7 linked regions of the Homo sapiens genome follow. The protein of the gene in region 5 purifies or fractionates together with the protein of the main gene of each other region. This does not show direct contact. Each region holds a gene or a part of one and is shown on either strand. Other genes may lie near its edges. The genes, in order: GOLGA5, CCDC102A, TJAP1, GAN, SYNC, KIF15 and GOLGA3.

Region 1 (3,500 bases), on a different chromosome or scaffold from region 5:
AGCTATGTCAACTCTTGACTTAAAGATCTCTACTAGCATCACACTGGCTATGGCAGCCACTTTCAACTTTTATTGGCTAAGAACCACCCACAGAACAACAACAACAAAATCAGATGCCCTGGCTCCATCCCCAGAAAATAACGATTCAGGAAGCCTGGGAAGGCACTCAATAATTCATTTTTAAATTAACAACACACAAGCGATTCTAAAGCCTGTTGTTCAGGAATCAATCTTTAACAATGATTATAGAAGTAATGGGTTTAATTGCATAAACAGTATGACACAAGGGCCTTCACAAACAGGTCCCAACTTTGTTTGCTAGCTACATTTTCTTCATCACCCTCCAACTCACTCAGTGTTTCCAACTTTGTTACAATGTTTTCTACTCTACTAGCCTCTTAGAGTCTGTTCTCTCTGCATGGAATGCTGTCTCTAACTTTTTACCTGGCAAACTCCTGTTCATTCTTTAAGACCCAGCTAAAAATACAGACCCTCTGTGAATCCTTTCTGAATACCCTAGGCAATTAGTTACTTCCTCCTTCATACTTCCACAACACTCTGACCATACTTAATTGCTACATTTACTAGACCACAAGTAAATTATCTGTTTACATGTCTAGCTCACCCACTGGACACTTCCATATCCTTGCACCTAGTAGGTTCTTTGTGTAATTAATTGAAAGATAGCTGAGAAGAAATTTTGGAATATGTGAACATATTAATCAACTGCTACTGCCTGATCCTATTTTCACAACCCAAAACGTCTTCTTCTATACAAGTTTTTGTCTTGAAAATACAAGAAAGATTTTATTCACTAACAGCCAAGACAATGAAAGAAGCTATAACATCCAAGAACATGACAATCTCCCATCAATAATCAACTCTATAAAGAATCCCTGGCCAGGTGTGGTGGCTCACGCCTGTAATCTCAGCACTTTGGGAGGCCAAGGTGGGCAGATGACTTGAGGTCCGGAGTTCAAGACCAGCCTGGCCAACGTGATGAAACCCTATCTCTACCAAAAAATACAAAAATTAGCCAAGGGTGGTGGTGCACACCTATAGTCCCAGCTACTCGGGAGGCTGAAATGGAGAATCGCTTGAACCCAGGAGGTGGAGGTTGCAGTGAGCTAAGATCGCGTCACTGCACTCCAGCCTGGGCGACAAAGCGAGACTCCGTCTCACAAAAAAATAAATAAATAAATAAATAAAAACATTAAAAAAGGCCAGGCACAGTGGCTCACGCCTGTAATCCCAGCACTTTGGGAGGCCGAGGCGGGCGGATCACAAGGTCAGGAGATCAAGAGCCTCCTGGCTAACAGTGAAACCCTGTCTCTACTAAAAATACAAAAAAAAAAAAAAAATTAGCCAGGCGTGATGGCAGGCGCCTGTAGTCCCAGCTACTTGGGAGGCTGAGGCAGGAGAATGGCATGAACCCAGGAGGTGGAGCTTGCAGTGAGCCAAGATCAGGCCACTGCACTCCAGCCTGGGTGACAGAGTGAGACTCCGTCTCAAAAAAGAAAAAAAAAAAAAAATCCCTATGGCCAGGCCACGGTAGATCATGCCCATAATCCCAATGCTGTGGGAGGTCAAAGTAGGAGGATCACTTGAGCTCAAGACCAGCCAGAGCAACACAGTGAGACACTGTTTCTATTAAAAATAATTTTTTAAAATTAGCTGGGCACAGTGGTGTGCACCTATAGTTCCAGCTACTCAGGAGGCTGAGGCAGGAGGATCGCTTGAGCCTGGGGAGGTCAAAGGTAGTGCGAGCTGTGATAGCATCACGGCACTTAAGCCTCGGCGATAGAGCAAGACCCTGTCTCAAAACAACAAAAGAATCCCTGCAAGAACCTACTATCAAGTTTTTTGCCTTTTTTCTATTTTTATCTTTGGAGACAGCGTCTCATTCTACGGCCCAGGCTGGAGTGTAGTGGTACAATCTCGGCTCACTGCAACCTCGACCTCCTGAGCTCAATCAATTCTCCCGCCTCAGCCTCCCAAGTAGCTGAGACTACAGGCATGCACCACTGTGCCTGGCTAATTTTTGTATTTTTTGTAGAGACAAAGTTTTGCTATGTTGTTTAGGCTGGTCTCAAACTCCTGGGCACGAGTGCTCTGCCTGCCTCAGCGTTCCAAAGTGCTCGGATTACAGGTGTAAGCCACCACGCCCAGCCTATAGCTATTTTAAAACAGTTAGTAGGTACTTGAATTAGCCACATTTACCACGTTAATCTCATTTCACAAGAAAGAAGGTGTACTTGTAGAGGTAATCTCAGAGGGAATTAAACAATTGAAAACAAGAGTTCTAAGCTCTTGCTTCACTACTAGGTCAATGCCTTCAACTCTTCAACTTGGATCAAAGTTCAGTCTCTCAGCTTTATTTGTGGAGGATGTGGGGGGAAAAACACACAAAAAACACAACCCAGAAAATACGTGAAGTACAGCCTCCTGTCATTTTTATAATCCTAGTAACAAAAAGATATCAACTGGGATAGTCCCCGATCCAAACTGACATGTTTTCTTTCAGATTTCAAAATTTTCTTTTTTTAATCTTAAAATGTCTTAGAGAAACAAATTTGAAATACTTTGTTAGATGCTGAGTGGGTGAAGTTGCCCTCCAGACAACATGAAGTCCCTGCTACAACTGTCTATTGACTAATAGTAGTCAATGATGTCTCCCTTGTTTACACCACACATTTGCAGAGAGTCTGCCCTTACACCAGTGGAGACAGATTCCATAACAGTAGATGAGAAACACCATCGGATCATATGATGACACATTCAATTTGCTTAACTCTAAAAGAAATAAGAGGACTGATTAACTACCGTGGGTTTGGCTCCCAAAAGAATTTTCTTCAATGGTTTTGATGGTGGTTACACTGGGGTTCACAGAACTGACACTTGATGTCTGAGAGCTCTGAAAGACAGGTGTCTTGCCTTTTTCCTTTCTGATTTCCACCCTCCCGGTAGGCTCCTTCTGTGAACTATTAAGAAAATCAAACAGCAGCTCATCATCAGGTTCTGACTTTTTTCTTCGCACAAAATGGGATGAAGGCCTAGGAACAGATGCATTTTCAACAGGATGAGAGGCCTCTACTGGTGTCCGAGATCCTACTTTCACATTTGCAGTGCCAGCTAAGATGGTGGCTTTTTGATTTCGAATGTTATCAGCTGCTGATGAAATATACGTAGATTTAGGTCCAGTCTGATATATCAAATCTGTATTTTGCTGGTGAAGTTCAGTATAGTCAGTATTTTTGCTATATATGTTGCTGGCATTGTCTTTCCTACTGAGAGCTGTTGCAGCCCCTTGATCAACTCGGTTTAAAAGATCTTCTGCCTTTCCAGCAAGATCAACAAACCAAGACATGATGGCAGCAGGATAATCCTATTGGCAAACCTGTAAAAAGGACATAAAATGATCAGTGTGGCATAGTGGCAGAGTATGATAAATGGTTAAGACCAGACTCTGGAGTCAGGCAATCCTGGGTTGAAATCCTAAC
Region 2 (3,500 bases), on a different chromosome or scaffold from region 5:
CATGAGAATTGCTTGAACCAGGGAGACAAGAGATTGTAGTGAGCTGAGATAGAGCCGCTGTACCCCAGCCTGGGCAACAGAGCGAGACTCTGTCTCCAAAAAAAAAAAAAGTTACTTTCACTTCTACTTTATATTTCAGTTAGTGCACTAGGTTGATTTTTTTGCTTGTTTGGCTTAAACAGTCTAAATTTATTCTCTCATATTTCTAGAGGCTAGAAGTCCAAGATCAAGCTGTTGGCAGGACTGGTTCTCTGAGGGCTGCGAGAAAGAATCCGTTCCATGCCTCTCTCCCAGCTTCTGGCAGTTTGCTGGCCATCTTTGGTATTCCTTGGCCAAAGATGCAACAATGTCCGCAAAAGCATCACCCTGACCTCTGCCTACATCTTCACAAAGGCATTATAGTGATTTTTTTTTTTTTTTGAGACAGCGTCTCTCTCTGTCACCTAGGCTGGAGGGTACTGGTGCATTCATACAATCACAGCTCCCTCAGCCTCGACCTCCTGGGCTCAAGCGATCCTCCCGCCTCAGCCTTCCAAGTAGCTGGGACTACAGTGGCACAGCCCCGTTCCCAGCTAATTTTTTTTTTTTTGTAGGCCAGGCACAATGGCTCATGCCTGTAATCCCAGCACTATGGGAAGCTGAGGTTGGTGGATTACCTGAGGTCAGGAGTTCGAGACCAGCCTGGCCAACATGGTAAAACTCCGTCTCTATGAAAAATACAAAAATTAGCCGGGTCTGGTGGCTAATTTTTTAGCCACCCTCTGGGTTGTCCCCTCTGGGAACCCCATGTTGGAGGCGTGGAGTGTTCCACTCTCAGAGAGAGAGGCCAGTGTGGTGTGGGGTCATGAAGGGCAGCGTGCTGGAAGGTGATGCTGAGCTCAGCCATTGGTGAGCACCTACTCTGCCAGGGCCAGGCATCATGCTTGTAACCTACAGTGCCTTATTCAAGATCAAGGCAGGGTGGGGGTTATGGGAGGATGTAGGGATCCCACACAGTGACGATGGCAAGAGAGAACCCTCTCTTCGGGTCACTGGACAGTGTTTTCCAGTGTTTCTATCTGCAGAAACATGTGTTCAGACCAAGCCTTGCAGGGAACATAGTCTACAAAACAGACAGGAGCAGGGTGGTCTTTGACAGCCCTTCGAGAAGAACAAGGTGGGCCAAGGAGTGGAGTGGCCAGTGCTGGGGCCGCCACCTCCTGGAGCCATTTTCAGATGAGCCTGAGGTGCAGCAGGAGAGAGGTACTTGTCCGGGGATGCTCAGTGCTCTGGAACCCCGACCACCTCCCCACAATGTGAGCTGGGCACTTGCACTTGGATAGGGAATGCAGTTCCAGGAGAACTACAAAGAACATGCGCCAGAGGCATGGTGGCACATGCCTGTAATCCCAGCTACTCAGGAGGCTGAGGCAGGAGAAACACTTGAACATGGGAGGCAGAGGTTACAGTGAGTCGAGACTGTGCTACTGTACTCCAGCCTGGCTGACAGAGTGAGGCTCTGTCTAAAAAAAATATATATATATATAGAGAGAGAGACAGGGTCTTGCTGTATGGCCCAGGTTGGCCACAAGCAATCCTCTTGCCTCGGAATCCCAAAGTGCTATGATTACAGACATGAGTCACTGCACCTGGCCATTATATTGATTTTTTAAAAAGGAGTGTGTAGATAGGTTATGCTATTGTCGTATTTAATTTCTGGACAGAAAAACTGCAGAATATTCATTATCATCAAGCTCGTGCCCTCTAAACTGCTCTGATCAAGGTCACTGGTGACCTCCACATTCTAAATCCAATGGTCCAGGGCTCAGCCCTGTTCTTACTGATCACTCTGTCCTCCGGGAAACGGTTTCTTGTGGTTCCCCTTCCCAGCCCGGCTCCCTTCTCTTGTCTCCTCTGCTGTTTCCCTTTCCTCTAACTGACCTCTAAACTTGGCACTTCAGGGCTGGATCCTCTGACCAGTTCCCTATCCACACTCATTCCTTGGCCCTTGTCCACGCTCATCGTTTTATTTATTTATTTATTTATTTATTTATTTATTTATTGAGACAGAGTCTTGCTCTGTCGCCCAGGATGGAGTGCAGTGGCACAATTCCGGCTCACTGCAACCTCCACCTCCCGGCTTCAAGCAATTTTCCTGCCTCAGCCTCCTGAGTAGCTGGGATTGCAGGTGTCTGCCACCACGCCTAGCTAATTTTTGCATTTTTGGTAGAGATGGGGTTTCAATTCACCATGTTGGTCAGGCAGGTCTCCAACTCCTGACCTCAAGTGATCTGCCCACCTCGGCCTCCCAAAGTGCTGGGATTACAGGCGTGAGCCACTGCGCCTGGCCCAGCTCATGGCTTTCAATATCATCTCTTCACTGGTGACTCTTGCATTTTTACCTCCAGCCCAGGCCTGTCTCATGAACTCCAGACTCATTCACATCCCCAGCTGCCTCCCTGCCATCTCAAACTCACACGTCCAAAACCAAGGTCCCAGCTGCAACCTTCCAACTTCCCTGTCTCCATTCCCTGCTTTTACCCTGCCCACAGCCCTCTCCCCCAACTAGAAAGTACGTTTCAGGAAGGCAGGGGCTTCTGTCTTATTTACGGCTGTATCCTCAGGGCAGAGCACAGTGCCTGGCCCAGAACAGGTGCCTGGTAACGTATTATTTGAATGAATAAATAAAAACTTGCACTGAGTTCTTGGGTGGAACACCACTGCTCTACAGTTCCAAGATACAGTCTAAACACTACCTGTCATCTTCGTGAGTCTAATGTTCTGTGATTCTGAGGGCGTTGTAGCACGGCCTGGCCCTGGCCCTGCCCCCTCCCGCCTCCCACGACTCACTCTCGCTCCTTGAGCAGCACCTTCTGGGACTCATCCAGCCGTAGCCGCAGGGCGGTCAACTTGGAGGCCTCCTCCTCCGTGGCAGCTGTGTCCTCCCAGGGTAGCCGGCTGCGCTCCTGGCGGCCTGAGCTGCCCCGCGGGCCCCCAGCCCCCAGGCTGCGCGCCTCCCAGCAGTCCTCAGACTCCTCTGGCATGCTCTTCAGCAGGCTCTCCACCAGCTCCAGTTCCTGCGGGGACCAAGGTGGAGGCTGGACCAGTGGCCGCCAAGCCAGGCCCTGGGTCTGAGATCAGCTTGATGGGTAACCTTGGGCAAGTCACACAGTGTCTCTGGGCCTCAGTTTCCTCTTCTGCTGCCTGCCTCTCCATCTCTGGAGAAGGAAGACACACCCTGCTCTGGGCCTCCCCTTTCACCTCCTGGAGCTGCAGAGTGTCAGCCACCATGGTTCCCTGTATCCTAGAAGATTCCCCAGGAGAGGTGGTGAGCTCCCTGTCACTGGAAGTATGCAAACCTACGGCGGGGCACCGATGGGAACAAATGTTGAAGCAGGAATTCCTATAATGGCTTAAGCCTAGATTCCTTCCAAAGGAATTCTAGCTCTAAGATCCTGTTTTTTCAGGGGCAAATAGTAAGGCATGGGGAGACTGGTGACACAGGGAAGCAGTGCCTGTGA
Region 3 (3,500 bases), on a different chromosome or scaffold from region 5:
AGGCCAGGCGCCGGCGAAGCTCTTCATTCTCCTCCTGTAAGAGCCTGGCAGGGTGTTGTGGGATCAAGGGCAGAGGGGTATGAGAGATAGAAGGGCATGCCCTGGAGCTCCAGAGTGGGCTCAGGAAGGAAGGGATGACATGAGGACAGGCAAACAGGACAGGGAAACTCCTGGAGTCTTAGTCTGAGTCTAAGGCAGCATATTTCATAGGCCTGCTGGCCCTGGGAACACAGCCTGGGTTGGAGGGTCAGGGGAGGAAGAGGGGATGGTAGGGGACAGTCCAGCCTCCCTTCACTATCGGAGAATAGAAATAAAGAATTGGGGGTAGGGATATGGCTCCCAGCCTGTCTCTGGTTACAGCCCATGTCAGCTGGCCACCAAGCCCCCAGCTCCAGTTTCCCCACTGCACAATCAGGCTTCTCCATTATTCATCTCTTGGAAATCCAGCCCAGCACTGCCCTCCTCTCCAGAGGCCTCATGTGGCTAAAGGGCTGTAAGGGTGGCAGCTGGTACAGGAGCCAGGAGCTGGGGAAGGGCTCCTTAGCAAGAAGAGCAGGGCCCTCAGAGCCATTCGCCTCCTGATTCTACGCTCTCTTGAAGCCCATGGAACAATAAAATCCCATTTTCCAGAAAAAATATCCACAACATCAACACTCCTCCCAGAGTCCCTAAAACAACCCATCCCAACCTTTATTTCTACCTAATCCAAGGGAAAGTCCAACTGTACCAACAGTCTAGCCTGGAGCTAAGAGGGACAGAGTTGAGGCAGGGCAGTATCTCAGGTAGCAGATACTCACTTCATCCTTTCTGCATCAGTCAGGGGTTCCTAGGCAAAAAAGAGAGGCTTGAGGCTCAGCTCTGGACCACTGGACCCCCGGCTGGCTCACCCTCCAAATAGCCACAAGAAGGCTCAGGTGTGAAGCCCAAAGACTCTTATAGCAGAAGAGGGCTGCAGGGCTCTCTACGGATGGAAGCAATTCAGTAATGCTGGGACAAGCCTCGACTACCCTCTCCCATGCCAACCAGAAGATTCAAGAACCTCTTCCAACCTTCACCCTTAATCCAATCCTAAAGCCATTTTCAAATAAGTCCTGGCACCCAAGCTACCTCTCCCCAGGGGCAGACAGCCTCTCAGCTGTTCACTCGGCTCCTGGTGGGTCCTGTATCCACAGAGGTATGGCAGAGACCTTCCAGAAAAGTCAGGCTGAACTATACACACGAGTTCTGAGCTCTGACAAAGCCCTCAGCCTTGAGATGAAGACAAAGGCAGAATCAGGCTCTTGCAGAGGCTCAGGAAGAACAAGTGCATGGGAGAAGAGGACTAATCCTGACTAAGGGGAGGAAGTGCCTTGTCTGTCTTTTAACCTCCTGCCCCATCTTCCCCAAACCCCTATGGCAGTCATGGCTCAAGAGTCAAGTTCAGCCAACCACAAAGCAGAGTAGGCCCCTGCTATCGCGAGAGGGAAACATCAAGGGGCCTATTCTATGTGGAACTGACTGCTTCAGAAGAGCAGCCTCTGGCAGAAAATGGAGGTAGGTGGCTTCCTTTGTCCATTGACTCTGACAACTGGATTTCACCCTATTCTACTGCATACTGATTATACAGCCTTCACCTCACCGAGCCTTAGTTCCCTCATTTATAAAACTGAGGTAATGCTCGCTGGGTAGCACCTAGCATAATAGCTGGCATCTTAATTTAATGTTCCCTGAACTGAAATGAGCAAGTCATGGCTTTTCTACCTTGAATCTGACCAAAGCAGGCTACAGTATGCCTGATGCTCAGCACATGCTGCGTCTCAGGTTCTTTAAATGTGCTCCACGCACTGTGACCAGATGGAGATATGGCTGCAAGGGCAGTAAACCACTGTGGCCCTCGTTTCTGCCTGTGAGTGAAGTTAATGGGGCAGGAGAGCCAATGTTTTGCAGCTGACTATAGGCCCCGAAGAGCAGAGTCCGGACCTAACAGTTCCTGGCAGGGAGTACATATTCAACAAATGTTAGCCAAACAAAGCAAAGCTGGAGGAAGGGCTGGACTTCCTGGGGACAATGAAGAGCAGCTGTGCTGGTGGGAAGTGGCTGTAGCACTGCCTCCTGATATGCCCCAAAGGGGCCACAGGTTGAATGGCTCTACTCCACTACGGAGGACCAGAGTCCCAACCACTAGCAGATTAGGACCCCTCAGTCTACTGGGCTGCCTCTTGCAGGGAGAATATCATATGGGATCATTTCTGCTAAGCTACAAAGACTCAGGGGTTCCCTGACATGTGGACATATACTCACAGACAGTCCCCCTTGAGCCTACATTACCCCCACCTGCACTACTGCGGCTAGGAGACCTCAGGCCTGCAACAGCAAGGCCCACTCTCACCCCAACTCAGGACCAGAAGCTCAGGCAGGAGAAGTCAGCCAGACACCCAGCCTCAGGGGCCTTGCCTCTGCCGGTCAGGCTGTGATACCAGTCTTGCTGACCTCCTGCTCAAGCCGGGATCCAGGAATTTCCAAACGCAGCTCCCGATGCTCTGGTGGTGCCTTACGGTAGGGTTTCTTAGCAGGGGCGGCACTAGTCATTCTGGGAGGTGACGGCTCCTCCGCCTGCTGAGAAGCAAGAAGGAGGCAGGCTCAGAGATGTGGCCAGAAGGACTCTGGACTGAGAAAAAACAAAGATGGTGAAAGGGGACATATGTTGAGGCCACCACATAGGCTGACAGGCCTGGGCCATTACTGGAGTCACTAGAGGGGCAGGACTTAGGTGTGTCAGTCCCCATAGGTCAAAGGAGTGCTGGAGGGTGGGGCATGGGTCCAACGGGGAACAGATGGGTGGGAAAGGCAGGGCCTAGGGCCTGAACACCTAGGTTCTAAGAGTGGGACAGGGAGCTTCAAAGCAGCCCACCACCCTCCTTACCACTCTCCTTTGTGGGCTCTGAAGGCCTCAGAAGGTAAAACTGCTCTCTATGCATTAGTTTTCTCAACTCTAAATTAGCGATAAAACAGCATCAATTTCTTTTTTTCTTTTCTTTTTTGAGACAGGGTCTTGCTCTGTTGCCCAGGCTGGAGTGTAGTGGCGCAATCTTGGCTCACTGCAGCCTCGACCTCCTGGGCTCAAGTAATCCTCCTGCCTCAGCCTTCTGTGTAGCTCGGACCACAAGCATGTGCCACTGCACCTGGCTATTTTTTGTACACAGCGTCTCACTTTGTTGCCCAGGCTCAAACTCTCAAGCTCAAGCAATCCCTCTGTCTTGGCCTTCCAAAGTGCTGGGATTATAGGTGTGAGCTACTGATTCCAGTTAAGAATAGCACCAATTCATAGGGTTGTTGGGAAGATGATGTAAAACACTTAGGAAATGTTGAATAAATGTTAGTTTAAAAAAAATCATAACCAAAAATGTGAGTTTGGGGATACAATCCAGGATCCCCAGTGGGAGTCTCAAGGCCCAAGAGAGCTCTCTGGCCTCAGCCACTGATGACCAAACCCCTGTGGCCTCCACCACTCTTTTCACCAG
Region 4 (3,500 bases), on a different chromosome or scaffold from region 5:
TTTTGGTTTCTGTGGTTTTATCACCCATGGTCAACTGCAGTCCGAAAATAGGTGAGTTCAGTAAAGTAAGATATTTTGAGAGAGACCACATTCACATAACTATTACAGTATATTGTTATCGTCGTTTTATTATCAGTTATTGTCGTTAATCTTTTACTGTGCTGAACTTAAACTTTATCATGGGTATGGATGTATAGTAAAAACACACAGTATGTACAGGGTTCAGCACTATCTGTGGTCTCAGACAACCACTCGGGGGTCTTGGAATGCATCCCTCATTGATAAGGGGGATCTACTGTACATATTTATTAGTGATAATGCATTTTAAAACTGTAAGAGTATGGAAAATGGAAAATGAAGAAAAACTCTCCTGAAGAGAACACAGGTACTGACTAACTTTGGACTTTGCTAACTTAATACAGGCTGTAATTTCTAAGGTAATCTTCCTAAAGGACTATTAACAAGAATGTAAGTCCCAAACTGGTAGAGAAGAAAAATTGAATGACAAAAAAACAGTCAAAATCAATTTTTAAAAAGGCAAAAAAAAAAAAAAAAACAATGCAGCCTGGACAAACGGAAGGACCTCCTCAATCACTCACTTCTGTTTCCATCAATTCCACTGTACACAGTCGCTCCTTCCATTGCTGGGTTTCTGAAACACCAATCCCTCTAGCAAACTTTCAAATATTAGTCATATAGGAGCCTTTGTGACAGACGTGTATGTGTGAAAATTAGGAATATGTGTATATATTTTGGGGGAAATGTAAGGGAGCTAATTCTGAGAAGATGCAACAGGGAAACTAGACCTACATCCTGCAGGCTATACTACTCTGTCCAGCTCTTCACTACTGACAATAACTAATAATTTTGGGACTCATAAAATGACTCCACTTCTATACTATGGTAGAGCCTTGGCCATTTGTATGATGCACTGTGGTACAGTATAGCTTTAAAAATATTATAGCCTGGGCAACATTGCAAGATCCCATCTCTAAAAAGAAAAATAAAATAAAAAATAAAATTTTAAAGATAATGTTGCTGGGCAAGCAAACACAATTAAATAAGGACTGCAGGAGGGCTGCTGACCACAATTAGGATGACATGAGATGACACTTATCAGGTGGACAAGGGAGCAGGACCACGGCGAAAAGACAGGCAGCCAGCAAAGGCAATGCCTCAATGGCTATCTTTTCTATCAGCTCCTTAAGGGAGAGCTTTGGATAAAGTAGAGCAGTTTTCAAACTTGTAAAGGTCAAGTAAAGCATTTTCCATACTAAATAACTTTAAGCCATTGCCTATATAAGTAGCATTTCCTAAAGTCTCATAACTTCTCTTTTTTTTTCTTTTTTTTTTGAGACAGGGTCTCACTCTGTCACCCAGGCTGGAATGCAGTGGTGTGATCTTGGCTCACAGCAGTCTCGATCTCCTGGGCTCAAGAGATTCTCCCACCTCAGCCTCCCAAGTAGCTGGGACCACAAGTGCATGCCACTATGCCTGGCTAATTTTTTTGATTTTTAGTAAAGACAGTTTCTCTCCTACATTGTCCAGGCTGGTCTTGAACTCCTAGGCTCCTCTCACTTTAGCCTCCTAAACTGCGGGGATTACAGGTGTGAGCCACCACACTCGGCCTTATATAACATATTTTATATAATTACATATTGTAATTCTAAGCTGCATGAATTTCAAAGATGGGACTACCATGGTGCAAAGAAACGCTGTGTTCCAGGTGTGGCCCTACAGCTACTTAGTGGTAAGCATCACTGAAGTTTGCTCTCCTGACATTAAGTCATCAAGTAACTGCTTCTCCAGTAGTTCTTAAAAGCAGCTATGTGCTGAAGATACAGAGATAATAAGGACTGACAGAAAATACGGTTTTCCTAACCACGGTCTCAGAAGCTAGAACTACACTAAAAATGTCATGTAGAGATAATAAAATTGTATCTTTAAAAGGCTCTGAGTCATTCTGTAAAACCTTGAGATTACACATTACTTGATCTGCTGTTTAAGGAAAATTTGCCACAGAACGGTACCTGCTGAGAGAACTCCATGGTTAATTCTCGGCATGCTTAAAGGGGCCAGTTCGATCCAAAGCTGCCTGTTAGGGTCATAGAGAGGGCACATGCATCGCATCGCTGCTGTGGGTTTCCGTGAACTAAGGAAGTAAATAAGTGATCAGTAGTTAATGTGCTTCATACAGTTCTTTTTATAAGTAGCCATCACTAGTTTTAGTTTACTAAAGAATATTTAAAACATTTTTTAAAAACCCTTGTGGAAGTCAGTGTGACGATTCCTCAGGGATCTAGAACTAGGAATGCCATTTGACCCAGCCATCCCATTACTGGGTATATACCCAAAGGACTATAAATCATGCTGCTATAAAGACACATGCACACGTATGTTTATTGCGGCACTATTCACAATAGCAAAGACTTGGAACCAACCCAAATGTCCAACATTGATAGACTGGATTAAGAAAATGTAGCACATATACACCATGGAATACTATGCAGCCATAAAAAAGGATGAGTTCATGTCCTTTGTAGGGACATGGATGAAATTGGAAATCATCATTCTCAGTAAACTATCGCAAGAACAAAAAACCAAACACCGCATATTCTCACTCATAGGTGGGAACTGAACAATGAGAACACATGGACACAGGAAGGGGAACATCACACTCTGGGGACTGTTGCGGGGTGGAGGGAGAGGGGAGGGATAGCTTTAGGAAATATATCTAATGCTAAATGATGAGTTAATGGGTGCAGCACACCAGCATGGCACATGTATACATATGTAACTAACCTGCACATTGTGCACATGTACCCTAAAACTTAAAGTATAAAAAAAAAAATCAAATGTAATTATGTTTTAGATACTGAAAAGCATTATGAATTCTTGTTTACATGGAACTACCTCTTCCCATACACCACTTTTCAAACAAGTCCCACCTCATACTTACACTCTCTCTTCTCCACCAACAGTCACGATGCACTCAGAGTAGCCCCGGGGTTTGAAGTTGGCCAGCATCGCCTCCCCTTGCTGCGGCTGGCTGAGCGGTATATTGCTACACTCTTTGACAATTTCTCGTACTAATGGTTCATTCAGCATCTGTTCCCGTAAATAACTGGAGTCCAACCCTGAAACCCACAGAGCTGACATAACATCCTTCATGTGGACCTGCAGAAGAGGGAAGAAAGATGGGGCGAAAACAATGGAAAATGCAACACATCATTTTTAGAATCTACATTTTCCACCTCATGGAAAACAAACTGTTAACACTCAGGTTATTACCAGGCAAGTGAGACACACTCGTGCTGCTTGAATATCTTCTCCTGGCCCTAACTGTCTACTTCCCAGAGTCTTGATAAGTAAAAGTTTAATTTTTAAAAATCATCAGTTTATTTGAGGTATCACTGTAAAAGTTTCAAGCAGCTTCCTTTACACCTTAAAGGATTCCCATTTCAATAGGAAAAGACAGGAAAAGAACCAGCTATAATTTG
Region 5 (3,500 bases):
AAGGACTCGACATACCTGAGGCACCACTGTTTGTTCCACAATTATAATAATTTTTTTTTTTTGAGATGGAGTCCCGCTGTATTGCCGAGGCTGGAGTGCAATAGCGTGATGTCGGCTCACTGCAACCTCTGTCCCCCAGTTCATGCGATTCTCTTGCCTCAGCCTCCCAAGTAGCACCACCACGCCTTTTTTTTTTGAGACGGAGTCTTGCTCTGTTGCCAGGCTGGAATGCAGTGGTGCGATCTTGGCTCACTGCAGCCTCCACCTCCCAGGTTCAAGTGATTCTCCTGCCTCAGCCTCCTGAGCAGCTGGGATTATAGGCACACATACCACCACGCCCGGCTAATTTTTGTATTTTTAGTGGAGATGGGGTTTCACCATGTTAGTCAGGCTGTTCTCAAACTCCTGACCTCATGATCTGCCCGCCTCGGCCTCCCAAAGTGCTGGGATTATAGGCATGAGCCACTGCGCCCAGCCCAGTTCTAATAAAATTATAATGTTGAGGTAAAACCTTCCTTATAACTTTTTTTTTTCTTTGAGATGGAGTCTTGCTCTGTCACCCAGGCTGGAGTGCAGTGGTGCCATTTCAGCCTCCACCTCCCAGGTAGGTGGGACTACAGACACGTGCCATCACACTCAGCTGATTTTTGTATTTTTAGTAGAGATGGGGTTTTACCATGTTGGCCAGGCTGGTCTCAAACTCCTGACCTCAAGTGATCCGCCCTCTTCAGCCTCCCAAAGTGTTGGGATTACAGGCATTGAGCCACCATGCCCAGCAATTCCTGGTAACTTTTAGCCACTGGATTTACCTGATTCTTCCTTCTAGGATCAGATATTTCTACCTTCTTTTCTGTGTAAGTTATCTAAACACTTAAAGAGAACCATGGTCGGCCAGGCGTGGTGGCTCACACCTGTAATCTCAGCACTTTGGGAGGCCGAATCAGGCGGATCACCTGAGGTCGGGAGTTCAAGACCAGCCTGACCAACATGGAGAAACCCCATCTCTACTAAAAATACAAAATTAGCCGGGCGTGGTGGTGCATGCCTGTAATCCCAGATACTCACTGAGGCAGGAGAATCTCTTGAACTTCAAAGAGGCAGAGGTTGCAGTGAGACGAGATTGCACCATTGCACTCCAGCCTGGGCAACAACAGCGAAACTCCGTCTCAAAAAAAAAAAAAAGATAACCGTGGTCAAGTGCGGTGGCTCATGTCTGTAATCCAGCACTTTGGGAGGCCAAGACCTCTTGAGTCCAGGAGTTTAAGGCCAGCGTGGGCAACATGGCGAAACCCCATCTCTACAAAAAAATACAAAAAATTAGCTGGGCATGATGGTGTACACCTGTAGTCCCAGATACTTGGGAGGCTGTGGTGGGAGAATCACCTGAGCCTGGGAGGTCGAGGCTGTGCTGAGCCATGACTGCACCACTCTGCACCCCAGCCTGGGCAACAGAGACCCTGTCAAAAAAAAAAACAAAAAAAACCCAGCTTATCTTTGTTATTCCATACATGTCCAGGTTTCCAGTGCCCTCTTCATTTGTGTCATATCCTTGTGACACAAATGACAGCTTTCAGACTGTCACTCTTTTGAGGATTTTTTTTTAATTTGCCTTTATTCTTAAGTTCCCCAAGAGCTAGAAATTGGGATGGGTATCAAAAACAGTGCCCCAGGGCTGGGCGAGATGGCTCACGCCTGTAATGCCAGCACTTTGGGAGGCCAAGACGGGTGGATCACCTGAGCTCAGGAGTTCGAGATCAGCCTAGCCAACATGGTGAAACCCCGTCTCTACTAAAAATACAAAACTTAGCAGGGCATGATGGTGCATGCCTGTAATCTCAGCTACTCGGGAGGCTAAGGCACAAGAATCGCTTGAACCTGGGAGGCAGAGGTTGCAGTGAGCCGAGATCACACCACAGCCTGGGCGACAGACCGGGACTCCATCTCAAAAAAAAAAAAAAAAAAAAAATGCCGGGCGTGGTGGCTCACGCCTGTAATCCCAGCACTTTGGGAGGCTGAGGCAGGCGGATCATGAGGTCAGGAGATCGAGACCATACTGGCTAACACAGTGAAACCCCGTCTCTACTAAAAGTACAAAAAAATTAGCCAGGCGTGGTGGCGGGCACCTGTAGTCCCAGCTACTCGGGAGGCTGAGGCAGGAGAATGGTGTGAACCTGGGAAGCGGAGCTTGCAGTGAGCCCAGATTGCGCCACCGCACTCCAGCCTGGGCAACAAAACCAAACTCTGTATCAAAAAAAAAAGTTTTTCATACCAAGTGCTTGTAAGCAACATTTCTTGTTTCTGTAAAAGTTCATCTTGTTAGAACTGGCCCACCCTTCTATCCTGTCAAACGCTCTTGAAGTCAGATTCCATCATTCTGACATCTGAGCTCTTTGACCCAGCTGCCTATTGCCTGCCAGCTCAGTCAGTTCCCACTGGGGAGTGTTCTCTTGCTGCTTTGCCCCTCAAATGCAAATAGCTTTGGTCTTTCCTGTTTCTGTTTTTTTGTTTTTGTCTTTTTTTTTTTTTTTGAGATGGAGTCTCCCTCTGTCGCCCAGGCCTGAGTACTGTGGCATGATCATAGCTCACTGCAGCCTCAACCTCCCCGGCTCAAGCCATCCTCCTGCCTCAGCCTCCCGGGTAGCCAGGACTACAGGCACGTAGCGCCACACCCGCTAATTTTTTAACTTTTTGTAGAGATGAAGTCTCACTATGTTGCTCAGGCTGGTCTCAAACTCCTGAGCTCAAGCGATCCTCCTACCTAGACCTCCCAAAGTGCTGGGATTACAGGCATGAGCCACCACATCCGGCCACAGGCAAGAAATCTTCAGACAGCTCTTTCCCTCCCCTGTATAGCCAGTTCACTGAGAAGTGACTTTTCTTTTCTTTTTTTTTTTTTTTTTTGAGATGGAGCTTCACTCTGTCGCCCAGGCTGGAGTGCAGTGGCGTGGTCTCAGCTCACTGCAACCTCCTCCTCCTGGGTTCAAGTGATTCTCCTGCCTCAGCCTCCTGAGTAGCTGAGACTATAGGTGCCTGCCACCACGCCTGGCTAATTTTTGTGTATTTAGTAGAGACAGGGTTTCACCATGTTGGCCAGGATGGTCTCAATCTCCTGACCTCGTGATCCACCAGGGATCATGGCCTCCCAAAGTGCTGGGATTACAGGCACGAGTCACTGCGCCTGGCCAAAAAGTGACCTTTCTATCTTAGAAAGACTACAGTCTCCATCCCCCTCTTCTGCATCCCACTATCAGGGCCCTACTCCAAGACATCCTGTCTCACTGGCACTTTTGTCCTGGTCTTCTAAAAGGACTTCCTCCTCTCCTCACCTCAATCTATTCTCTACACCACCACAGTTAACTTGCTACAACACAGAGTGAACTATTGCTCCACTTCACCAATAAATACCCAAATTGCTACGCATGGTTTCAAGGTCCTTAAAGATGTGGCCCAAACATACCTTTTTTTTTTTTTTTCTTTTTTTGAGCCAGAGTCTCGCTCTG
Region 6 (3,500 bases), on a different chromosome or scaffold from region 5:
TCGACCTCCTGGGTTCGAGGGATCCTCCCACCTCAGCCTCCCAGGTGCTAGGATTACAGGCATAAGCCACCATGCTCAACCCATATGCTATATTTATTAAGCCTCATATCTCAATAGAAATATGAGCTTTAGGCTGGGCGTGGTGGCTAACGCCTGTAATCCCAACACTTTGGGAGGCCAAGGAGGGTGGATCACCTGAGGTCAGGAGTTCAAGACCAGCCTGGCCAAAATGGTGAAACCCCATCTCTATTAAAAATACAAAATATTAGCTGGGTGTGGTGGTGGGCGCCTGTAATCTCAGCTACTTGGGAGGCTGAGGCAGAAGAACTGCTTGAACCAGAGAGGCAGAGGTTGCAGTAAGCCGAGATCATGCCACTGCACTCCAGCTGGGTGACAGAGTGAGACTGTCTCAAAACAAAAAAATATGAGCTTCAGATTGCCTGAAACTGCCTCAAATGTAGGTCAGGCGACTCAAATCCTCACTTTTAATGAAAAAAGTAGATCTCTTCCCTCATCCTTTCCAATTCCTCTCCCCTTGCCCATGTATATTCTAAACTATAGACTCTACAAATATTTTATTGACAATTCGTATTACTATATATATATATATATAAACACATATTGACAATACATATTACATAGAACCTCTGGTCCCACTGTTGATACCTTAGCCTAGGACTAGATACTTAACCCTTCATACCTGAAATATTAAACAGCGTAAGTGGTCATCTTTTTCTGTGGGCTCTCCCTTCTAAAATCTTAACAGCAGTGGGTCAGATGACTAAGTTTCTATAAAACAGGCTTTCTTCATGAATCACTTAGTTGCTAAGAAATGTTAAGTGTTTCCCAGTATTCGCAGAGTTGATACAAACTTGGCCTGGCACTCCTGGTCCTTGATAATCCGGGCCTGCTTGCCTCTCTAACCAACCCATCCATTGAGCCATGCTGAAATGCCAAATGCTACACTCATTCTGCATCCACAATAACCCTTGAGATGCCCCCCTGCCAGGCATGCATTTCCTGTTTCTCTCTCCCTACCGAAATCCTTCACAAGTCAAGAACTACTTCTTTTCCACATGTTCCACAAGCAGTCCATATTGCACCCTTCTTCCTCTGACCCCTGTTGTCTCTTGTACCCTTATCCCCTCTGGTATGAATTAAAACATTTTTGCTACTGACAGACTTGCCCTATCCCATCTATGTTCACTGTTCCACAAAAGAAATCTCTGTTCCTTTTCAATAGGAACAATTTCTTATTTCTTTGCCACCCTCAAAACACTTAGCTTGGTATGGTCATATATCAGTTAACAACACGGATACATTTTTTTTTCTGAGACAGAGTCTCTCTCTGTCACCCAGACTGGCGTGCAGTGGCGCGATCTCAGCTCACTGCAACCTCGGCCTCCCAGGTTCAAGTGATTCTCCTGCCTCAGTCTCCCAAGTAGCTGGGACTACAGGCGCGCATCACCACGCCCAGCTGACTTTTGTATTTTTTTAGTAGAGACGGGATTTCACCACGTTGGCCAGGATGGTCTCGATCTCCTGACCTCGTGATCTACCTGCCTCAGCTTCCCAAAGTGCTGGGATTACAGGTGTGAGCCACCGCGCCCGGCTAACAGGGGTACATTTTAAGAAATGTGCTGTTAGGAAATTTGATTGTTTTGTGGGCATCATAGAATATACTTATGCAAACCGAGATGGTATAGCCTACAACATACCTAAGCCATGTGGTATAGCTATTATACTCTTAAGGGACCCCCATCATAAATGCAGTTCCTCATTGACTGAGACACTGTCATGCATCACGACTGTATTGACTGCTAGTAAGAACTCACACACAAGTTGAAGACCATAATTTCATTCTTACCTTCAATCTCATCCCTTCTGCATGGGTATCTTTTTGCCTTTCAGATCCTGCTAAATCCACCAGGTTGAGTAGGGAGGTCCGTATATTCACAATCTCATTACTTTTCTCCATTGACTCTATTGTAATTGTAAAGACGGCATGAGACCTAGACGATTCTCTGTTCATTGATGTTGATGCCACACGTCTATTCCTCCATCCTCCAGACAACACCTATGCAAAAGGAAAACATATTAAAAGAAATGAGAGGACCAGTTACAGTGGCTTATGCCTGTAATCCTAGCAGTTTGGGAGGCCATGTCTGGAGGATCACTTGTGGATAGGAATTCAAGACCAGCCTGACCTACATAGTGTGAGACCTCACCTCTACAAAAAATAATAATTTGCTATGTACAGTGGCAGGAACCTGTAGTCCTAGCTACTCGGGAGGCTGAGGTGGGAAGATCTCTTGAGCCCAGGAATTCAAGGCTGCAGTGAGCCATGATTGTGCCACTGCACTCCAGCCTGAGCAGCAGGGCAAGATCCTATCTTAAAAAAAAAAAAAAAAGGAAAAGAGAAAAAAAAAGGAACAAGAATAGGTACACTTAAAATGTAAAATAAGCACTTGAGAATCACTCATTTTATTATGAAAAATACTAACATACAGCTAATTATCTACTTTCATAGGGAAAAAGAAATATATTTACATAAAGCATATTTTCTATTTAGAACAGGGGTGAGGAGTATCTATTGCCTTCCATTGTTATCTAGCTTTATAAGATAAATTATATTATCCCAAGTTCCAAATGGTACACAACAGCCACCAAAATCAGTAGGAAATTTGTAAAGGGTGGTGAGAAAGATTACTGGTCCATTAAGGAATAAGCTGAAGTTATTTTCCTTTCCTTTGTGTTCCCTTTCCACATTACAGAAACAGAACAAACAGGAAATCAGAGCGCATAGGATCTAGAACTGGTTTTGCCACGCTTTATTTGTGTTAACCTAATGTAAATCACAAAACCTCTCTGAACCCATTTCTTTACCTAGAAAATGAGAATGTTGGACAGGAAAAATCTGTAAATTATCTTTAAGCCCAAAGTTTTGTAAGCTTTTGGTCTACAAAGTATTTTTTCCCTTCTATTCCCTATGGCAAGCAGGATACATGAAAGTTCAGAATGCAGGCTCTGGAATCAGATGCATATGAGTTCAAACCATGGCTCCACTATTTACTAGGCGAGGTCTGGGGCCAGCTGAACCTTTTCAAGCCTCAGCCTTCATATTTGTAAAATGGGAATATGGGTACCTATCCCATAGAACAGAACATATAAGTTTTAGGTGCATATGAATCATCTACAGATGTTGTTAAAATTCAGATTCAGATTCAGTGTGAGGTGGGGCCTGAGATTTTGCATTTCTAACAAGCTCTCAGGTGATGCTGATGTTCTGAGGACCACATTTTGGGTAGGAGGGTAACAGTATATATAGGGTAAAATGGGGAAATTAGTGTCTTTATCTCAAAGGGCATATTGAAAATTAAGTAAAATAATGTATACAAAAGAAGTTAGCACAGTGCTTGGCACCTTCACTCAATAAATCATAGCTGTTGGCAGGGCACGGTGGCTCACGCCTGTAATTCCAGCACTTTGGGAGGCCCAGG
Region 7 (3,500 bases), on a different chromosome or scaffold from region 5:
TGGCGAAGTTGGGTTTCTTATTTGCAACCAAAGCATTTGAACTGAGAAGGGTTCCACTATGAATTCTGTAACCATTCCACCAAAGAGGCTGTACAGTGATCCTCCCCAGAGGGCTGGAATCAGGGCCTGCCCCACCACAGAGCCAGAGGCCGACGGTCAGAAGGTGGCAACACCAAAAGTAGCAACGCTGGGCACACGGTGAAGTTTTGTTCTTCGGGTCTCACGCGTGGCGGCATGTCCAGGGCTCACGTGACCTGCCCCACGCTGCCGCCACAGCAGATGGCCAGGCCTCACCTCGTCCTCCAGCTCCAGCACCTTCTCCCGGGACTCCTCCAGCTCCTGGCTGGTCAGCGCTATGACCTCCTGCAGTTCCTTTTCCAGCAGCGTCTTGCTATGACTGACAGCCTGCAGCTCCGCCTCCAGGGCCTGGATCCTTTCCTAAGGGCCAAGATGGAACGGGCGCTTGGTCATGGGACAGGCCCTGACCCCCCTCACTTCCTGTGGTGCCGGCAGGCATGAGGCTGTGTGGCTGCACACACCAGACACCAGCTGTCTGACACAGTCTCACAACCTTCCTTTTTGTTAAAGAAGTTGAATTAACCGACCACAGCATGCACACGATGACACACGGGGATAGTTGGGACAAACAAAATCATCTCTTCAGTTCAATGCTTCAAAAATACAGAAGAAAATCTGACCTGCAGATAATGGCTATAAATCACCATCTGTGGCAAGCAAGCAGCACCAGTTGTAATAAATACCACACACATGCTCACGCACCACACATCACATACACACACTCATGTAACACACACCACGTGCACATGTTCACATCCCACACACCACACACACACGTGCTCACACCCCACACGCACATGCTCACACCCCACGTGTTCACACCCCACACCACACATGCACATGTGCTCACACCTCACACTGCATGCACACATACACCCCACACTGCATGCACACATATGCTCACATCCCACACACCATGCACACAAACACTCCACACGCTGCACACACACATGCTCACACCTCACACATGCACGGATACATGCAGGCACAGGTGTGCTCTCACACCCCGCCCACTTGCTGCCTCGATGGTACCAGGCCCTTGCCAAGCATGTTCCAGTACCACCTAACTTAACCCTTACATGAGAAGGTTCTCATTCACCTCAATTTGGCCTCATTTTGCTGAGGATCAAAAAGGTGAGAAATTTGCCAAAAGTCACCACTTGCGAGGGGTGAAGCCCGGACGGACACAAGACATCGGCTCGCAGCTGTGCTATTCCTCAGCTGCAACAGCGTGGCGAGGGGCCAGCTCTGCCCGGCCTTTGCGACCTCCCCACCCCAGCCCTTAGTGAGCCCAAAGAAAATGGCAACTGAATCAATCTCCCCAACATTTTACAAAGCAACCAGGTGAGAGGAAGCACTTGATTTATTTATTGAATTTCAGACACAGAGTCTCTATCGCCCGGGCTGGAGTGCAGCAGCAAAATCATGACTCACTGCAGTTTCAGCCTCACCTCCCAGGCTGAGGCGATCCTCCCACCTCAGTGTCTCAAGCATCTGTGTCCACAGGCACGTGCTACCATGCCTGGGTTTTATTTTTGTATTATTTGTAAATACAGGGTCTAATTATGTTGCCCAGGCTGGTCTCAAACTCCTGTGCTCAAGCGATCCTCCTGCCTCAGCCTCCCAAAGCGCTGGGATTATAGGTGTGAGCCACCGTGCCCGGCCGAGTTTATTTGACAAGAAAACCCCACGTTATGATACAGTCTCTTCCTACCCATAAATTCTTAAGTGGACAGGAGATAGAAACAAACCACATATAAGAAGAAATACTAAGTTGTCAGTGCAAGGACGTGAATTGGAGAATAATAAATAAAATGCGGATGAACTCACTCAGGTAGAATGTTATGCCTACCACGAAAGGTGACAGAGCACGGAGGGCCACGGCCTCCACGGAAGGCTCTGCTCAGAGCCCTCCAGAAAGGGCACCCGCTTGTTCTGGGCCACCGCAGCATGGCTACCTCTAAACGCTCCCTGAACCCTGTCAATCGCTGACCCCATGCCCTCACTCCTGCTTCTCAGTGAGTGCGGAGGCTGCTTTTCCTCCTGAGATGCGAGGAGGCGCAGAGGCAGCTGGAACGCGAGCGGACCAGGGCAGGCCCTCCCTCTGCCCCAAGGGAGCAGCTGAACTTCTCTGAGCCAAGGAGATTTCTTGAGGAAAATCAGGTGAACGCCACAGGCCACAGGCCATGTGGGGTTCATGAGGGAGACGCGAGGCAATGCTCAGTCACTGTGGGTTCCTGGTAACCTGGAAGATGAGCGGGAGTTTAGAGAGTTGCCACCTCCCACGCGAGCTCGGCCCCGCTAGGCTTTAGGGGACAACTGCTGATGGAGAGCCCTTCCCTGCACTGAGGGGCTGGTGACCCTGGCCGGGGATGGCACGGTGTTACCTACATGTAGAGCCAGGCTGCTGTCACTGCTGCCACCCTGGGCTCGGAGCTGGCCCAGCTCCGCGTCCGCAGCCTCCTTGGCCGCGAGGGCCTCCTGCAGGCGGCGGCTGAGGATGCCCACGGCGTTCTCGTAGGCCTTATGTTTGGTCTTCATCTCCTTCTGGGCGCTGGTCAAGTCTGAGCCCAGCCGCCTCATCTTCTGCTTCTGTTCCGTGATGGCCCTGGGGTGTCATGAGGGAGACACAGGAGGAAGCTGAATTATCCCGATGTGACCGTCTGGCATTCTGGTTCGCCTCCCCCCCGGCCCCCGCACCTCCCACCTGGCCCCCGCACCTCCCCCGGGCACATGCAGACTTACTTCCGGGCCTCTTGCTGCAACTCTTCGATTTGTTTCTTCAGCGCCTCATTGGCCTCTGTGACCGCGACCATCTGCTCCTTATCGAACTGCAACGACTGTGGAAGGGAAGGAGGGCGTGAGGAGCGGCACTGCCACCCCCAGCCTGTCTCCCCTTCCTGGCTCCAGCCCATCACCCCCACCAAAGGCACTGCTCAGGCTCGCCCTGGAGGACTTGGGCCTTGAGAAAAATCCTGAGAGAGACGTCTGCCTTCTTACAAACCACTCTTTTTTTTTTTTATTGAGATGGAGTCTCACTCTGTCACCCAGGCTGGAGTGCAGGGGCGTGATCTCAGCTCACTGCAACCTCCGCCTCCCAGGTTCAAGTGATTCTCCTGCCTCAGCCTCCCGAGTGGCTGGGACTACAGGTGCCCGCCACCATGCCCAGCTAATTTTTGTATTTTTAGTAGAGACAGGGTTTCACCATATTGGTCAGGCTAGTCTTGAACTCCTGACCTCGTGATCCACCTGCCTCGGCCTCCCAAAGTGCTGGGATTACAGGTGTGAGCCACTGCACCCGGCCACAAACCACTCATTACTGAGACCAACAAGCGTTTCCAAACACTGTCCAGAGCATCAGAGGCACAACAGGACATGACTGGTTCATAGGAAAGCCTGTGGACCCAGGACCTCTCCTCCAA

What was found.
Region 1: the proteins of SYNC (region 5) and GOLGA5 purify together in Homo sapiens (affinity purification with mass spectrometry; 2 studies listed by BioGRID and IntAct, with this or other methods). This does not show direct contact.
Region 2: the proteins of SYNC (region 5) and CCDC102A purify together in Homo sapiens (affinity purification with mass spectrometry; 2 studies listed by BioGRID and IntAct, with this or other methods). This does not show direct contact.
Region 3: the proteins of SYNC (region 5) and TJAP1 purify together in Homo sapiens (affinity purification with mass spectrometry; 2 studies listed by BioGRID and IntAct, with this or other methods). This does not show direct contact.
Region 4: the proteins of SYNC (region 5) and GAN purify together in Homo sapiens (affinity purification with mass spectrometry; 2 studies listed by BioGRID and IntAct, with this or other methods). This does not show direct contact.
Region 6: the proteins of SYNC (region 5) and KIF15 purify together in Homo sapiens (affinity purification with mass spectrometry; 2 studies listed by BioGRID and IntAct, with this or other methods). This does not show direct contact.
Region 7: the proteins of SYNC (region 5) and GOLGA3 purify together in Homo sapiens (affinity purification with mass spectrometry; 2 studies listed by BioGRID and IntAct, with this or other methods). This does not show direct contact.

The regions. Positions count from the first base shown.
Region 1 is NC_000014.9:92,797,305-92,800,804, reverse strand, and holds part of GOLGA5 (golgin subfamily A member 5), read right to left. Parts: intron 3,398-3,500; 5' UTR 3,368-3,397; coding exon 2,824-3,367; intron 1-2,823. UniProt on the Homo sapiens protein: Involved in maintaining Golgi structure. Stimulates the formation of Golgi stacks and ribbons. Involved in intra-Golgi retrograde transport.
Region 2 is NC_000016.10:57,523,072-57,526,571, forward strand, and holds part of CCDC102A (coiled-coil domain-containing protein 102A), read right to left. Parts: intron 3,057-3,500; coding exon 2,830-3,056; intron 1-2,829.
Region 3 is NC_000006.12:43,498,070-43,501,569, reverse strand, and holds part of TJAP1 (tight junction-associated protein 1), read right to left. Parts: intron 2,648-3,500; exon of another isoform or gene 2,593-2,647; 5' UTR 2,569-2,592; coding exon 2,470-2,568; exon of another isoform or gene 2,434-2,469; intron 827-2,433; coding exon 798-826; intron 45-797; coding exon 1-44. UniProt on the Homo sapiens protein: Plays a role in regulating the structure of the Golgi apparatus.
Region 4 is NC_000016.10:81,356,462-81,359,961, reverse strand, and holds part of GAN (gigaxonin), read right to left. Parts: intron 3,178-3,500; coding exon 2,960-3,177; intron 2,153-2,959; coding exon 2,031-2,152; intron 1-2,030. UniProt on the Homo sapiens protein: Probable cytoskeletal component that directly or indirectly plays an important role in neurofilament architecture.
Region 5 is NC_000001.11:32,696,271-32,699,770, forward strand, and holds part of SYNC (syncoilin), read right to left. Parts: intron 1,160-3,500; exon of another isoform or gene 1,066-1,159; intron 1-1,065.
Region 6 is NC_000003.12:44,792,794-44,796,293, reverse strand, and holds part of KIF15 (kinesin-like protein KIF15), read right to left. Parts: intron 2,078-3,500; coding exon 1,868-2,077; intron 1-1,867. UniProt on the Homo sapiens protein: Plus-end directed kinesin-like motor enzyme involved in mitotic spindle assembly.
Region 7 is NC_000012.12:132,783,870-132,787,369, forward strand, and holds part of GOLGA3 (golgin subfamily A member 3), read right to left. Parts: intron 2,919-3,500; coding exon 2,824-2,918; intron 2,687-2,823; coding exon 2,470-2,686; intron 439-2,469; coding exon 295-438; coding exon of another isoform or gene 157-294; exon of another isoform or gene 1-156. UniProt on the Homo sapiens protein: Golgi auto-antigen; probably involved in maintaining Golgi structure.